Linked DNA regions of Homo sapiens. The protein of the gene in region 1 interacts with the protein of each later gene in a biochemical or structural test. Each region holds a gene or a part of one and is shown on either strand. Other genes may lie near its edges.

What was found.
Region 2: the proteins of ANP32B (region 1) and CHAF1A form a complex in vitro, tested with the Homo sapiens proteins (one study listed by BioGRID).

The regions. Positions count from the first base shown.
Region 1 is NC_000009.12:98,006,620-98,015,166, forward strand, and holds part of ANP32B (acidic leucine-rich nuclear phosphoprotein 32 family member B), read left to right. Parts: intron 1-4,651; coding exon 4,652-4,770; intron 4,771-5,801; coding exon 5,802-5,853; intron 5,854-8,547. UniProt on the Homo sapiens protein: Multifunctional protein that is involved in the regulation of many processes including cell proliferation, apoptosis, cell cycle progression or transcription.
Region 2 is NC_000019.10:4,404,638-4,413,184, reverse strand, and holds part of CHAF1A (chromatin assembly factor 1 subunit A), read right to left. Parts: intron 7,274-8,547; coding exon 7,223-7,273; intron 4,283-7,222; coding exon 3,426-4,282; intron 2,681-3,425; exon of another isoform or gene 2,662-2,680; intron 1-2,661. UniProt on the Homo sapiens protein: Acts as a component of the histone chaperone complex chromatin assembly factor 1 (CAF-1), which assembles histone octamers onto DNA during replication and repair.

The DNA of each region.
Region 1 (8,547 bases):
ACAGATGATTCACATTCTCCAAGCCCACTTTGTATAATATGTGGCAACAAGCTATCCAACAAAGCCATGAAACCTTCAAAACCACTTCACTGGCTGGGCACAGTGGCTCATGCCTGTAATCCCAGCACTTACAGAGGCCGAGGTAGATCACCTGAGGTCAGGAGTTCAAGACCAGCCTGGCCAACATGGGGAAACCCTGGCTCTGCAAAAATACAAAAATTAACCAGGCATGGTGGTGCACACCTTTAGTCCCAGCTTCTCGGGAGGCTGAGGCATGAGAATTGCTTGAACCTGGGAGGCGGAGGTTGCAGTGAGCCGAGATTGTGCCGCTGTGCTTTAGCCTGGGCGATAGAGCAAGACTCCATCTCAAAAAACAAACAAACAAAAAAAAAACTGCTTCACCACTTGGAGACCAAGCACCCTGCGTTTAAAAGACAAGCCTTTGGAGTTTTTCAAAAGAAATAAACATGAACGTGAAAAACAGAGGCAATTATTGAAAGCTCCCACTTCATCAAATGTGACTGCACTGAGAACATCTCATTCTTAGTGGCTAACTGCATTGCTAAAGCTAAGAAGCCCTTAACTAACTGCATTGCTAAAGTAAGAAGCCCTTTACTATTGAAGAGTTGATCCTGCCTGCTGCTAAGGACATTTGTCATGAACTTTTAGGAGAGGCTGCAGTTAAGCTGCAGTTCAAAAGGTGGCACATGTTCCTCTTTGAGCTAGCACCATAACTAGATGAATTGATGACATAGTAGAGGATATTGAGGCATAGTTGTTAGAGAGGATTGATGAGTCACCGTGGTACACATTGCAGGTTGACAAGTCTGCCGATGTTGACAACATGGCAACAATGCTTGTTTTTGTGCAATATATTTTCAGGAGGATGTGCATGAGACTATGTTATGTGTACTTCGTTGCCAACCAGCACCACAGCTGCAGAACTATTCAAGTCTTTTGAACGATTACATATCAGGAAAACTGAATTGGTCATTTTGTGTCGTATATGCACAGATGGAGCGGCTGCCATGGCTGGACGGCTTTCTGGTTTCACTACTCGAGTCAGAGAGGTCGCTTCTGGATGTGAGTCTATGCACTGTGTCATCCATAGAGAAATGCTGGCTAGCTGACAAATGTCACCTGAACTTAACGTTTTGCAGGATGTGATTAAAATTAACCACATTAAAGTACATGCCCTTAACCCATGTCTGTTCACGCAGTTCTGTGAGATGGATGCAGAGAATACTTCTCTTACACAGAGAAGCGAGATGGCGTTCTAAAGGTGGATCACTGGCCAGAGTTTTTGAGTTAAGAGGCCTGCTCCAGAGATTTCTCTAAGAATAACAGTCACCACTAGCAGAACATTTTAGTAACACAGAATGAGTGGTAAAACTTTTTTTTTTAAGTTCAGGGGTACATGTGCACGTTTGTCGCAGAGATAAACGTGTACCATCCCATCACCTAAGTATTAAGCCCACTGTCCATTAGCTAGTTTTCCTGATGCTCTCCGTCCCCAGCCTCCACAGGCCCCAGTGTGTGTTGTTCCCCTCCATGTGTCCATGTATACTCATCATTCAGCCCCCACTTACAAGTGAGAACATACGATACTTAGTTTTCTGTTCTGAGCATTGGGATTTTTGACATGTTTCAAACAGTAGGAGTGATTTTTGAAAGAGAGTGAGCCAGGGCCTTCTTTCTCACAGCTGGTGCATGATCACCTATCTCAGCTCTCAAAAGAGTTTGAGCATTACTTCCCAACCACAAAAGACCCCCGAACTGGGAAGGAATGGATCCACAACCCATTTATGAATAAGCCAGGTCAATCGACTTTGTTCATGCTTGAAGAGGATCAACTGGTTGAGATCACAAATGGCAGTGGCCTTAAAAGTATGGTTTGAGACAACTTCAAAATCTCCATATATTCTGGATTAAAGTCGAGGTGGAATATCCTGAGATTGCCAAAAAAGCACTGAAAAACCTGCTTCCATTTCCAATATCCTATCTTTGTGAAGCAAAGTTTTCTGCAGTGACAGCAACCAAAACAAGATTATGGAGTATACTGGACATAAGCAGCACACACTTCGAATGTCACTGTCTCTCATTGCCCCCAGATGGGACTGTCTAGTTGCAGGGAAAACAAGCTCAGGGTTCCCATTGATTCCACATTATGATGAGTTGTATAATTATATCATTATATATTACAATGTAATAATAGAAATAAAGTGCAGAATAAACATAATGCGTTTGAATCATCCTGAAACCATCCCCCCACCCCCAGGCTGTGGAAACATTGTCTTCCACAAAACTGGTCCCTGGTGCCAAAAAGGTTGAGGACCGCTGTCCTACTGCACTACAGTCATCATCTTGGGTAGATACTTATCTCCTGATTCACAGGGCCTGACACTGAGTAGGTACTTGGTACCTGTTTGTTATTGCCAGCTATAAATAAAATAGCTTTCCCTTCCATTGACATATGACCAGAGTTTTAAAAGGTAATGATTTCAAATAACTATATGTTAGATTCCGTTTTTCATTCATAAGGGAAATAATCTCTGATCATAACATAGAATTAAAAGATGATTTTCAGTAGTTTTGGCATTTGACCCAGGATTTATACATATTTTACAGATTTACAGATTTTAAGAAATAACTAATACTTTCTACCCAAGATATTCCTCCTGATTAGTTTGTGTTTTCTTTGCATGCTGAGTTTGTTTATTCTCAGTCACTCTTAGAATAAAACGCTTCTCACGTACAGGTGGCTTAGAGCAGCAGTCTCCAACCTTTTTGGCACCAGGGACTGGTTTCATGGAAGACAGTTTTTCCACAGATGCAGGGAAGGGGTTGGGGGCGGCAGCTGAATGGTTTTGGGATGAAACGGTTCCACCTTAGATCAGGCATTAGATTCTCATAAGGAATGCACAGTCCAGATCCCTCACATGCGCAGTTCACAATAGAATTTGCACTCCTATGAGGATCTAACAGGTGATGTGACAGGAGGCGGAGTTCACGTGGTAATGGTCACTGGCCTGCTCTTCACCACCTGCTGTGCGGCCCAGGCCACAGACCAGTACCAGTCCTGGGAGTTGGGAACCCCTGGTTTGGAGGAAGCAGAATGATTAGTTTTCACATCAGTCAGCATGAGTATTTCTTTTCTTTAAAAATTAGCACATATGACAGAAATTATCAAGAAAATAGAGGAGGAAAAGCATCAAGGAGTTTGGGTGCAGTTAATGGTATAATTCTCTGGAAGCATTTTTACAGTTTTATTTTGAAGCATATTGAGACAGGCAAAAATTAATGAGTTATAAGGTGGTAAAATGGACAGAGAATAGGACATCTCACTTATTTCCAAATGTTATGTCCCTTTGTCCCTTCTACAGTTTTTCCATTTTTCCTAAAAACCATTTGTGCTTGTTGTCTATTTAAGTTCACCTCAAACAGGAAGAACAGCCACATGTGCAAGAGCCAGTAAAGGACATTCCTTGGAAGGTGGGGGGCAGTTCCTGAGAGCAAAGATGGGTCAGCCAACAAATACTTGAGCATTTCCTATGTGCCAGGCACTGCGGAAAATAGTGGTTTAAAAAAAAAAGGAACAAAAAAACAAGGTTCCTACCCTCTTGGACCTTACAGAGAAATGGTGTTTTTTTTTTTTTGTTTTTTTTTTTTAAATCATAAATAGGCTAGGTATGGTGGCTCACACTTGTAATCCCAACACTTGGGGAGGGTGAGGCAGGATGATTGCTGGAATCCAGGAGTTCAAGACCAGCCTGGGCAACATAGACAAACCCTATCTGTACAGAAAAAATTGTTTTAAATTAAGAATTCTAAATAATAATTGCAAGTAAGCAAAGTGTGTTGTAATGGAGAAGCACCACATACTCATGGTGAGAGCCTATGACCTGGCATTGGGAGGTCTGGTGAGTAAGACTGCCTAAGGAAGTGATGTTGACTGAGACTCCAAGGTGGAGTCAGAGTTAGCCAAGCAAAGAGGATGGAAAGAGCATGCAGAGACCAGGAGGCAGGTGAGAGCATGGTGTGCTCTAGGACCCAGGAGAAGCAAGAACTGCCGCACTAGAGGTCCGAACAACCAGCTAGAGATGCAGGTGCCTCTCAGCCTCCTGTCCCCTGAGTCACAGGGTTATTATGGGTGTTTCTCAGGTTCCTGATTTGAGCAGCTGACTGTGACTCTGGTAATGATACCCAAGAGAAGGTACATGATTTTTTTTTTTTTAACTTTTTACTGTCAAAAATTTCAGACAGTGACAAAGGGTAAAAATAATAGCAAAATGAACCCCCATGTTCTTATCACTCAGCTTCAGCAATTATTGGTCATAGCTGATCTTATTTTATTCCTGCATACCCTTACCTTCTTCCCCACTCCATATAATTTTGAAGCAAATCTTAGCCATTGTATCATTTCATCAGCGAGAATTATAGTGTTTGTCTTATCTACCAGGACTTCTAGCTCTCTGATTTTATGGGACTCTATCGGACAAAGGGACTGAGCTGTAGCACATAGTAGAAAGAAAGTGACTGCAGTTCGTGGCCTTACAGCATTTGTTCTGTGAGCCAGCCCACAGATCCTCAACACTTTGTCCCCTGTGGAGCGTCGAGGATATTTAATGAATCCCTTTTGGACTATTTTTAGAAGGAGAAGATGAGGAAGACGAGGACGATGAGGATGGTGAAGAAGAGGAGTTTGATGAAGAAGATGATGAAGATGAAGATGTAGAAGGGGATGAGGACGACGATGAAGTCAGTGAGGAGGTCAGTGCAGCTGTTTTCTACCCTGCTTCCTATTTGTAATTACAACAAAAGTGGGGGTTTCAAAAAGATGACAAAAGAAAAGAAAAAACACCTTTTGAAGAAATTAGTATACCTGTGAATACATTTACAATATGAATCTGGTTAATTTAGTGTTTGTCTGGCTTTAAATAACTACTAAATAGAATGCCTACTGAACTCAAACTAGTACGGTTCCTGGCTGTGCAAGGTAAGTTCTGGCCCTCTGGGGGAAGGAATGAATTGAGTATTCAGTGTGGTGAGAAAACTGGACATGTTGAGAATTGATGGTATGTCTGTTCCTTCATTGAATTGTAGGGAAGTTTATGTTTACCAAGTCTAAACTTTTTCTTGTATATTCAGTGTAATTCAGTAAATATATATCTGCTATGTTAAAGAGTTGGGAGTACAAAATGAAATGAGATTGTGGTCCTGCCCTGAAAGAGCACAGTCTGGTTTATGAAATACCCAATAATAGAGGATCCCTGAGGAAATAAATGCTATACGAGGGCAGGAGAAAACAGTGTCTTGACTTTGACCCTCAAAGAGGTTTGGGAAACAGGCAGACAACATTAGTTGTTAACAAAACGCATCCTCTTTTGTAGTATAAAAATAAGGCTTGGGGTTTGTGTGATGTCATTAGGTGTATGATTGACATTAAAGTTCTGAAAGAAGCTTTGTATATGAATGGGATATAGAAATTTTTGTCTAAATCTGTTTTGAAATTTGAGATTTTAAGATGTTTTCTTGAATTATCCAGAGTTATATACTAATTAAACATCTAGCAAATGAACTGCTTGCTTCTAAAAAAAATTTTTCTTAGAAAAATTATAAAGCTCGTTAAGGAAAATCAGTGGGTCTTGGTACATCAAAGTAGATAAAAATAACATTACAGTTTCCTGCTTGATTGATATTGTTGCATTTATTTGTACTTCTTAGTTTGGCAGAATTTGTACTATATGCACTTTTCAATTTGGCAGAATTAATTTAATGTTATGCTGTTTGCTATTCTTTAGGAAGAAGAATTTGGACTTGATGAAGAAGATGAAGATGAGGATGAGGATGAAGGTGGGCCTAATGCATGCATTTTGATCATTCTCAGTTAAAAATTAGAGAAAAACATCCATTATTTAGAATATGATACCACTGAGAAGAAAATAAAATACTCTTGGCTCTGGTGGTTTACACATTCACATTCTCGTTTCTATCGTCCCATCAGTGTGTCTGTGCTGGTGCAGGCTCCCTGCTGCTACAGCAGTTATTCCTGTCTCATGGCAAGGGTCCTGTTGGTCTTCAGTCCTCATGGGGTTTTTTTCGGGGTGGTGGTGGTGGTGGTGGTGTTTTGAGACGGAATCTCGCTCTGTTGCCCAGGCTGGAGTGCAGTGGCACGATCTCGGCTCACTGCAAGTTCCGCCTCCTAGGTTCAAGCCATTCTCCTGCCTCAGCCTCCAGAGTAGCTGGGGCTACAGGCGCCTGCCACCACGCCCAGCTAATTGTTTGCATTTTTAGTAGAGACGGGGTTTCACCGTGTTAGCCAGGATGGTCTCAATCTCCTGACCTCGTGGTCCACCCGCCTCAGCCTCCCAAAGTGCCGGGATTACAGGCGTGAGCCACCACACCCGGCCTGTTGTTTTCTTGAGATGGAGTCTTGCTCTGTCGCCCAGTCTGGAGTTCACTGGTGCAATCTAAGCTCACTGCAGCCTCCACCTCCCAGGTTCAAGGGATTCTCTGCCTCAGCCTCCTCAGTAGCTGGGATTACAGGCATGCACCACCACACTTGGCTAATTTTTGTATTTTTAGTAGAGACAGGGTTTTGCCATGTTGGCCAGCCTGGTCTTGAATTCCTGGCTGAATTCAAGTGATCCACCCACCTCGGCCTCCCAAATTACTCGGATTACAGGTGTGAGCCACCATGCCTAGCCTGTTCCCCATGTTTTAAATGTGTTTTTAGGACCAGTCATTTGGTTTACTGTCAAGTGTGAGTTTCTGTGTTTGGAGTTCTTTCATTTTTTAAAAAAAGGCTTTAATAATTGAACCATCATTTTCAGGATATATAAATAGATGTAGCAGTTTCCCAGTTTTGTCAGTGTTAGTCCTTTCCCCACTACAACCAAGACAAATGAAATAGCTGTTACTTATTTAATACTGTTGAAAGTATGCCAGCCTGGACAACATAGACCCTGTCTGTACAGAAAATTAAAAAGTTAGCTGGGACCGGGTGTGGTGACTCACGCCTGTTATCTCAGCACTTTAGGAGGCCGAGGCAGGTGGATCACCTGAGGTCAGGAGTTCGAGAGCAGCCTGGCCAACATGGTAAAATCCTGTCTCTACTAAAAATTAAAAAATTAGTCAGGCGTGGTGGCACGCACTCAAACCCAGGAGGCAGAGATTCAGTGAGCTGAGGTCATGCCACTGCACTGCAGCCTGGACAACAGAGCAAGACTCTGTCTCAAAAAAAAAAAAAAGTTAGCTGCACATGGTGGTGCACACCTATAGTCCCAGCTACTTGGGAAGCTGAGGTGGGAGGACTGCTTGAAGTTGCAGTGAGGCTATGATAGTGCCACCGCACTCCAGCCTGAGTGACAGAGGGAGACCTTGTCTCAAATAAAAAGTCTCATGGTTGTGTCTCAGAAAATCAGGTGTTCACTGTGCTGTTGGCTGATGTTTTCTCAGCATCCACTTTGTCAAGCTCTCAATTACATTTACACTAGATATTACCCTGGTTAGGACCTGGTCACTGCCTTTAAGAACCTGTATGATTGGGAGGCCGAGGCGGGTGGATCATGAGGTCAGGAGATCGAGACCATCCTGGCTAACACGGTGAAACCCCGTCTCTACTAAAAATACAAAAAAATTAGCCGGGTGTGGTGGCAGGCGCCTGTAGTCCCAGCTACTCGGGAGGCTGAGTCAGGAGAACGGCATGAACCCGGGAGGCGGAGCTTGCAGTGAGCCGAGATCAAGCCACTGCACTCCAGCCTGGGCGACGGAGCCAGAGTCTGTCTCAAAAAAAAAAACAACCTGTATGAAATATGATTTAACATATAGTTAATTTCATTAAAATAACCATGGATTTTATTAGTTGAAAAAATTGGTCTATATGTAAGTCTCTGTGTCTCGACTACATAATACTCTTAAGAATTTCCTTTTTAGTTAATATTAGTTTGCTACAATTTGAGTCTTAATGATGTTCCATACTATGTTTTGTGTGTTATTTAATTCTCAGAATAACCTTTTAAAGTCAGTACCATTGTCCCCATTTTACAGATGAAAAAGGCTTAAAGAGGTTAAGCTTGTCTGAGATCACTTGAAAGTAAGCATGTCTTGAAGACGTGCTAGATAGCACGAGGGGTTTTGTTTTGTTTTTTTGGAGACAGTTTCGCTCTTATCACCCAGGCTGGAGTCCAGTGGCACAATCTCAGCTCACTGCAACCTCCGCCTTCCGGATTCAAGCAATTCTCATGCCTCATCATCCAGAGTAGCTGGGATTACAGGTACATGCCACCATGCCTGGCTCATTTTTGTATTTTTAGTAGAGACGGAGTTTCACCATGTTGGCCAGGGTGGTCTGGAACTCCTGACCTCAGGTGATCTGCCTGCCTTGGCCTCCCAAAGTGCTGGGATTATAGGCATGAGCCAGTGGGCCTGACCAGCTCAGGTTAATAATAAGCACTTTAATAATTGCTAGATTTGTAAAAAGAAACATTTGGAAGACAACACCTTAAAATCGAGGAAACTGGATTAACTTTTCCTGGGTGAGTTGAG
Region 2 (8,547 bases), on another chromosome or scaffold:
CAGGAGAATTGCTTGAACCCAGGAGGCAGCGGTTGCAGGAGCCAAGATCACGCCATTGCACTCCAACCTGGGCAAAAGAGTGAGATTCCGCCTCAAAAAAAATAAAAAATAAAAAAGAGTTAGGTACCAACTATGAAGCAAGCAAACCAACCAAACCAGAAATGCAGGACTCCTTAAAGGTTCGGAGATAAAGTAGGGGTTGGGGATGGAGTCTCTCTCAGCTGGGATCTCAGGGATCCCTGCCATCAGGGCATGAGGAGGCCTCCCGATAATCGCTTCCCTCATAGCTTCGGTGACTGACAGGCCCTCTGCGGGTGGTTGTGGCCGCTTTCTGCCATAGGCTCTGGGCCAGCCTGAAGCCTTTACCACTTGTAAATTATCTGAAAAGTTGGGATAATATTGCCTTCAAGTGCATCCCAAAACCTCGAGTCTGTGTTCAGAACAAGATCTAGCGTCCTAAATGCAGGGTTTCCTAAATGTTGCACACTGGGTTCATGTGCTCAGTTGTTTTAGAAAGCGGGCAGGATTGTGCCACCATGATGCCCAACGAGGGGACTTCCCAGTTTGCAGACTAAGCTGTGGACATGGAAACAAACTTAATGGAAACATGTGCTTGTGTCCTGTCCTTTTTTTTTTTCTTGAGACGGAGTTTTGTTCTTGTTACCCAGGCTGGAGTGCAATGGCACGATCTCAGGCCACCGCAACCTCTGCCTCCTGGGTTCAAGCGGTTCTCCCGCCTCAGCCTCCGGCGTAGCTGGGATTACAGGCAAGCGTCACCATACCCAGCTAATTTTCTGTATTTTTAGTAGAGACGGGGTTTCTCCATAATGGTCAGCCTGGTCTTGAACTCTCGACCTTAGGTGATCCACCCGCCTCGGCGTCCCAAAGTGCTGGGATTGCAGGTGTGAGCCACCGCGCCCAGCCATGTGTCCCGTTCTTGCTAAATGGCTCACATCACAGGACGAAATTTTGCAAAGCGGCAGCAGCCTGGAAGAAATTCAAGTGATCGAATGTACACTACAGGATGCCCAATGGGGAGAGACTTCAACTCTGATTTTGGGAGATTGAGTGGTGGATTAGGTAGAAGCTGAAATGTGTACATGCCAGTCTGGCACATTTAGTAACTTAGAAGAGGGTACTAGGCTTAGTACCTGAGTGATAAAATAATCTGTACAACAAACCCCCACGACAAGAGTTTACCTATATAACAAACCAGCACATATAAAACAAAGTAGAAGACTGGGGCGGTGGCTCATGCCTGTAATCCCAGCACTTTGGGAGGCCGAGGCAAGCGGATCACCTGAGGTCAGAAGTTTGAGGCCAGCCTGGCCAACATGGTGAAACCCGTCTCTACTGAAAAGATACAAAAATTAGCCAGGCGTGGTGGTGGGCACCTGTAATCCCAGCTACTCAAGAGGCTGACGCAGGAAAATCGCTTGAACCTAGAAGGTGGAGGCTGCAGTAGGCTGAGACCATGCCATTGCCCTCCAGCCTGGGCGACAGGGTGAGACCATGTCTCAAAAAAAAAAAAAAAAAAAAAGATTTGCACCATTTTTACAACATTTCATAAACCTAAAGAGGAAGCCATTTTTTCCTTTTTCATCTTCTCAGGTGAAAGACAAGAAATGAAGTCATTCAGAAAAATAAATGCTCTTGGCCAAGCACAGTGGCTCACGCCTATAATCCCAGAAACTTGGGAGGCCAAGGCGGGTGGATTACCTGAGGTCAGGAGTTTGAAATCAGTCTGGCCATCATGGCAAAACCCCGTCTCTACTAAAAATACAAAAATTAGCTGGGCATGGTGGCGGGTGCCTCTAATCCCAGCTACTTGAGAGGGTGAGGCAGGAGAATTGCTTGAACCCAAGAGGCGGAGGTTGCAGTGAGCTGAGATGGCGCCATTGTACTCCAGCCTGGGTGACAGAGCAAGACTCTGTCTCAAAAATAAATAAATAAATGGTTCCTTAGAGCTCAAAATCCCGAAAGCGAACAAGGTTGGTGGTTTATGGTCCAGGTGGTCTACTGTACCTGCTTACAGGTACAGATTAAATGACCCATCTCAGGATCTACTACTCTCATATAAAGACCCAACATGAACAAACAAAAGTGCTACAAAACCAAAAACATAAAAAGGCACTGTCTCTTCTGGTTCTACATACTTAAGATAAAAAGTAAAAAATTATAAAATCAAAAGACACCACTAAACACCGTGGGACTCGTGACTGATTTTATCAGTTTGGTCCCTAAGACCTTAAGGACACCATTGTGCTAATAAAAAATCAATAACAGAGACAGACCATGCAAAAGTCCCCCTTATGGGGTCCTTAAAAATGGTTCCAGATGGGGTCTCGCTCTGTCACCCAGGCTGGAGCGCGGCAGTGTGATCATAGCTCGCTGCGGCCTCCAACTCCTCAGCTCAAGTGATCCTCCTGCCTCAGTTTCCCAGGTGGCTGGGACTACAGGCATGTGCCACCATGCCTGGATAACTTTTAAAAATTTTTTTGCAGGGCTGGGTGCAGTGGCTCATGCCTATAATTCCAGCACTTTGGGAGGCCAAGACGGGCAGATTACTTGAGGTCAGAAATTCAAGACCAGCCTGGCCAAGATAGTGAAACCCTGTCTCTACTAAAAATATAAAAATTAGCCAAGTGTGGTGGTGCGCACCTGTAATCCCAGCTATCAGGGATGCTGAGGCAGGAGAATCGCTTGAACCTGGGAGGTGGAGGTTGCAGTGAGCCGAGATCACGCCACTGAACTCCAGCCTGGGTGATAGAGTGACTCTGTCAAAAAAAAAAAAAAAAGTAATTTTTTTTCATAGAGATGGTGTCTATGTTGCCCAGGTTGGTTTTGAAGTGATCTTCAAGCGATCCTCCCACCTCGGCCTCTCAAAGTGCTGGGATGACAGGCATGAGCCACTGTGCCTGGCCCCAGGTAAGGTTTTTAAGATGGCTGGCTGTGCTGACCCTACAGAATTCCCCAAGTCATGCTTCCTGCCGTCTCACTGCCACTTCAGTGCTCAGTGTCTTTGCAGCCCCGTCCCTACATTTCTATGCTTAGACAGGAAGGGCACAGAGAAAGCTGGACCTCGAATCTGAAGTGAGGGGTTACAGCACCAGCTCAGATCCTAATTCCCTAAAACGGCTAAGCTATCACTGATTAGATGTGAACAACGAAGGCAAAACAGCAGGGTGTTATTCACACAGTACACCAGGTACACTGTTGATGAATTAAGTCCCAGGGGCATCACAACGAATGCAGAACTGAACACTGTGAGTTTTGATACCAGGAAGAACTCCACGTCGAGTCCCAGGACCCAGCCCGTGGCCCCGCTCACTCTGCCACAAAACACCTGGGTGACCCAGTGGAGACTGACAGCGCTCTGAGATCCGTGAGCACTGATGTGCAGGGACTCCATGGGAGATACTCACTCTGCGGAGGGGCGTGGAGGTGGGGAAGGGACTGGTACTGCTGTGCTGCTTTGGGGGAGCAGGCGGCCCCTCGGGCGAGCTGGTGGAAGAGGGAGAGCTCAGGGACGAATGGCTGAGTACAGAGTCTTCTTCGGGGAAAGATTCCAGCACCTCACTCTCAGGGGTCATGTTCTTGCCTTGGGGTGTGGCTGGAAGGGACTTGATTTGCGGTGGTCTCACAGCCAAGATGTCCTGCAAGACCACCATAGGCACCTTCCCTTTGAACAGGATGCCCCCAGCTTCACTCCAACTGTCCTGCTCCTTTCTGGGGCACATTCTCGGGCCACTCGTCAGCTCCGGGCAGCTCCGTGGCGAACATTCCTGGGAGTCGCCTCTCCTCCCTGCACCTCCACAGCCAACACCCTCCTCCTCTGTTTTGCAAGGAATGTCTGAAAGGGTCTCTCCAGGAAATGCCAACTTGTCGTTCTGAATGGCCTTCAACAACCCCTGCTGATCCCCAGTGTCTTCTCGCTGGCCATTTATTGCCTCCCTGGAGGGAGAGGCTTCAGAATTTAGTTTATTGTGGTCCACAAGACTGTCTGGCTGCTCATTCGAGTCCTCTGTCAAATCAATGATGACTGTGCTCTGGCCAATACTGGTTTCGATTCTATTTCTTAAAAAGTTATCTAAGGGACCCTTCCCGTTGACAAGTTTCGGTCTAAAGTCTATGTCAGAACCCACATGACAGTTGTTTTCCAAGGTGTCCAAAGAGGCCTCTAAATCGGGGCTTTTACTTTGCACAGAAGTACCCTGATCGTCTGACATGTCATCGGCTTTCCCCTTTGGGACAAGATTCAGGCGCTTAAACGGCAGACGGGCTGAAACAAAGACAGAAAGCCATCTCTAGTGAACGTTTAAAGTTACAACCACTCATGAGCTTGAAAATTACTGATTTGTTGGGACATGGGGGTGGGAGATAATTTTAAAGTTTAAAAAGGGACTATCTGGGCCGGGTGTGGTGGCTCATGCCTGTAATCCCAGCACTTTGGGGAGGCCGAGGCAAGCAGATCACAAGGTCAGGAGTTTGAGACCAGCCAGACCAAAATGGTGAAACCCCGTCTTTTCTAAAACTACAAAAATTAGCCAGGCCATGGTGGCACACGCCTGTAATACCAGTTACTGAGGAGGCTGAGGTAGGAGAATCGCTTGAACCTGGGAGGCAGAGGTTGAAGTGAGCTGAGATCCCAACACTGCACTGTAGCCTGGGCGACAGAGACAGACTCCCTCTCAAAAAAAAAAAAAAAAAAAAAAAAAAAAAAGGCCGGGTGCGGGAGGCCAAGGCAGGCGGATCACAAGGTCAGGAGATCGAGACCATCCTGGCTAACACGGTGAAACCCCGTCTCTACTAAAAGTACAAAAAATTAGCCGGGTGAGGTGGCGGGCGCCTGCATTCCCAGCTACTCGGGAGACTGAGGCAGGAGAATGGTGTGAACCCGGGGGGCGGAGCCTGCAGTGAGCTGAGATCACGCCACTGCACTCCAGCCTGGGCGACCTGAGCGAAACTCTCAAAAGAAAAAAAAAAAAAAAAGACGGGGCAGGGGCTATCTGAAGCCAGGTACACTGACTTACATCTATAATCCCAGCACTTCGGGAGGCTGAGGCAGGAGGATCGCTTGAGCCCAGGAGGTAGAGGCTGCAGTGAGCTGTGGTGGTGCAACTACTCTGCAGCCTGGGCAAAAGGGACCTCGTCTCAAAAAAAAAGAGGGGGTGGGGGGTGCTATCTTTTCATTCTATCCTTTTCTAACATCCTAATTTTACTTATTTTTTTTTCTTTTGGAGACAGTCTTGCTCGTCACCCATGTTGGAGTGCAATGGCGCCACCTCAGCTCACTGCAACCTCCACCTCCTGGGTTCAAGCTATTCTCCTGCCTCAGCTTCTCAAGTAGCTGGGATTACAGGCATGCACTACTACACCCAGCTAATTTTTGTATTTTTAGTAGAGACAGGGTTTCGCCATGTTGGCCAGGCTGGTCTCAAACTCCTGACCTCAGGTGATCTGCCCGCCTCCACCTCCCAAGGTGCTGGGACTACAGATGTGAGTCACCATGCCCCGCTTCAACATCCTAACTTAAAAAACAAAATCCTGACAAGCCTTTTAGCAGAGCCATCGCCAGAATTTCAAGAGACATTTGTTTATTTCAGATGCAGTTCATATTCCAAATTTATTTTTAATGGGTGAAAATCTCATTTGATAATAACTGCATCTGGTTCTCAAGTAGAAAATATAGACACATTTGTGGACAGGGTTTTTTTTTTTTCTCCTGGCCTCAGCACCCTAGGCTCTGTTAGGCTTTTCTCATCAATCAAACTGTTCTCCCAGAGTCTGCCAGGCTTCGGGCTGGTTAGGAGGAACACAGAAACACTTTGGAGAGTGAATTTCCCAAAGAACCTATGTTCACTTACTTCAATGCCATTGCATCTTTTATTAACTATTTCATCATGTAATAGACCAAATAAAAACCTGTTTTTTTTTGGGGGGGGTGTGGGGGGAGTTGTTTGTTTTGAGACAGAGTCTTGCTCTGTCACCAGGCTGGAGTGCAGTGGCGCACCCTTGGCTCACTGCAACCTCTTCCTTCCGGGTTCAAACAATTCTCTTGCCTCGGCCTCCTGAGTAGCTGGGACTACAGGTGCCCCCTACCATGCCCAGCTATTTTGTATTTTAGTAGAGACGGGGTTTCACCATGTTGGCCAGGCTGGTTTCAAACTCCTGAGCTCAGACAATCCGCCCACCTTAGCTTCCCAAAGTGCTAGGATTACAGGTGTGAGCCTAGCATCTGGCGTCCCCCTTTTTTTCAAGAGACAGAGTCTTCCTCTGTCATCCAGGCTGAAGAGCAGTGGTGTCATTATAATTCACCGCAGCCTTGAACTCCTGGACTCAAGCACTCCTCCCACCCCAGCCTCTCAAATAGCTGGTTTTACAGGTATGCAACACTGCACCCAGCCCAAGTTTGAAAAACCCAAAACTGTAGTTTCTAAAAATACAATCTGGGCCGGGTGCGGTGGCTCACACCTGTAATCCCAGCACTTTGAAAGGCTGAGGCAGGGGGATCACAAGGTCAGGAGATCGAGACCATCCCGGCCAACATGGTAAAACCCCATCTCTACTAAAAATAGAAAAATTAGCTGGGTGTGGTGGCACGCGCCTGTAATCCCAGCTACTTGGGAGGCTGAAGGAGGAGAATTGCTTGAACCCAGGAGGCGGAGGTTGCAGTGAGCAGAGATCGCACCACTGCACTCCAGCCTGGGCAACAGAATGAGACTCCGTCTCAAAAAAAAAAAAAAAAAAATTACAATCCAACCGCTCATCTGGCCCAAGGGTGAACACACTCCCCGTTTTATGCAGAAGGATTTGGGAGCATTTATCTTCCAGGACAACAGTGGTTCTCTGAGGGGGCAGTTCTACCTCCCAGGGGACATCAGCCACGTATAGAGATATTTTTGGTTGTTACGACTTGGAGGATGCACTTACTGGCATCCGGTGGGAAGAGGCCAGGGATGCTGCTACGCTCCCTACAACATACAGGAGAGCTCCCAGCTGCAAGTTACAAAACACCAATCGTGCATAAGTGGAGGCCTCGGGGTTTACTTGTGGGAACCCCACGAGACATTACTGTGTGAAAAGCATTTTCCCAGCTTCCTGGTCTGAAGAAGGACTGTTTCTCTCCCCTCTAGCTCCAGGCTTCCACTGAGGTCTCCAACAAGAGACAAGGAAGACTATAAACTACGAACAACTCTTTAACCCATTTCCAAATAATTACCTTGTATTAACTTCTTAACTGGAAAAGCTGGTCTATCTTTGCAATCCATGGCTGCAAATAAAAGTGTCAAAGGGTAAACTGTTAAATTCTGCAAATAATCAAGTTAGCAAATACATATGTAGAGCCAATTATGTACAAGGTGGAGGCAATTCTGACCCCTCTGTCCTCGGGGGCCATTTGACACAGTCTAGAGATGTTTTTGGTTGTCATGATGCAGGGAGGGCTCAAAGGGATGCTATTCACATCCAGTGGGTAGAGGCCAGGGATTCTGCTAAATGTCCCACAATGCAATGCACAGCACACCACAATGAAGAATTATATGGGCCAAAAAAAAAAAATTTTTTTTTTTTTTTTGGAGACAGAGTCTCACTCTGTCGCCCAGGCTGGAGTGCAATGGCACAGTCTCAGCTCACTGCAACCTCCGCCTCCTGGGTTCAAGCGATTCTCCTGCCTCACTCTCTCAAGTAGCTGGGACTACAGGCGCATGCCACCACTCTCGGCTAATTTTTGTATTTTTAGCAGAGACGGGGTTTCACCATGTTAGCCAGAATGGTCTCGAACTCCTGACCTCGTGATCCACCCGCCTCAGCCTCCCAAAGTGCTGGCCACGGCGCTTGGCCTCAAAATGTTAATAGGTTGAGAAATCCTACCCTAGACACTGTCATGTCTTGTTTTATTTTCTTTGTGGCATTTAATCTGAAACTTTCGTGTTTATTACGTCTCTCTGGAAACAAAATGCCAACTCTATGACAGCAGAAAGACTTGTTCCATGCTGCACCTATGGTACCTGGTTAGGGTCTGGAATAAATCAGAAAGCCAACTAAGAGAGTAACCGGAACTGTTTCATGAAATGAAAGTGGAATGAGTAAAAGTAGGGAGGAGAGAAAACATCAGATTACCTATTTCATTCCCATGATCCCCAAACATCTTCCTCCAACCCAAGCCCCCATACCACCACCAAATCTGTAAAATCAGAAAAGGGATCCTTTTCTTTTTAAAGAGAATTCATGAAGGTACCACAATTTAAAGCACTTTGAGCTTGCCAGGCAGGAGCTGAAGTGCTGTCAAGAGAAGATAAGACAAAATATTTTCCTGCAAAAAAAATCTCAAGAAACCATCTAATAATATCAAAGCAGATGCAGCAGTGATCATAAATAGAAGCGAGTCTTTAGATAAATACCTTAAACAGAGTAAGTTTAGGAAGCTCACACTTACCAGGAGATCTGGCTTGGCAAAACCTAGTTTAGTTATTTTGGTTAATCTACGTATGTTTTGTAAGCATTACATAAAAGTGAGTACTTTTTAAAAGCAGACTGGGGCTTCCT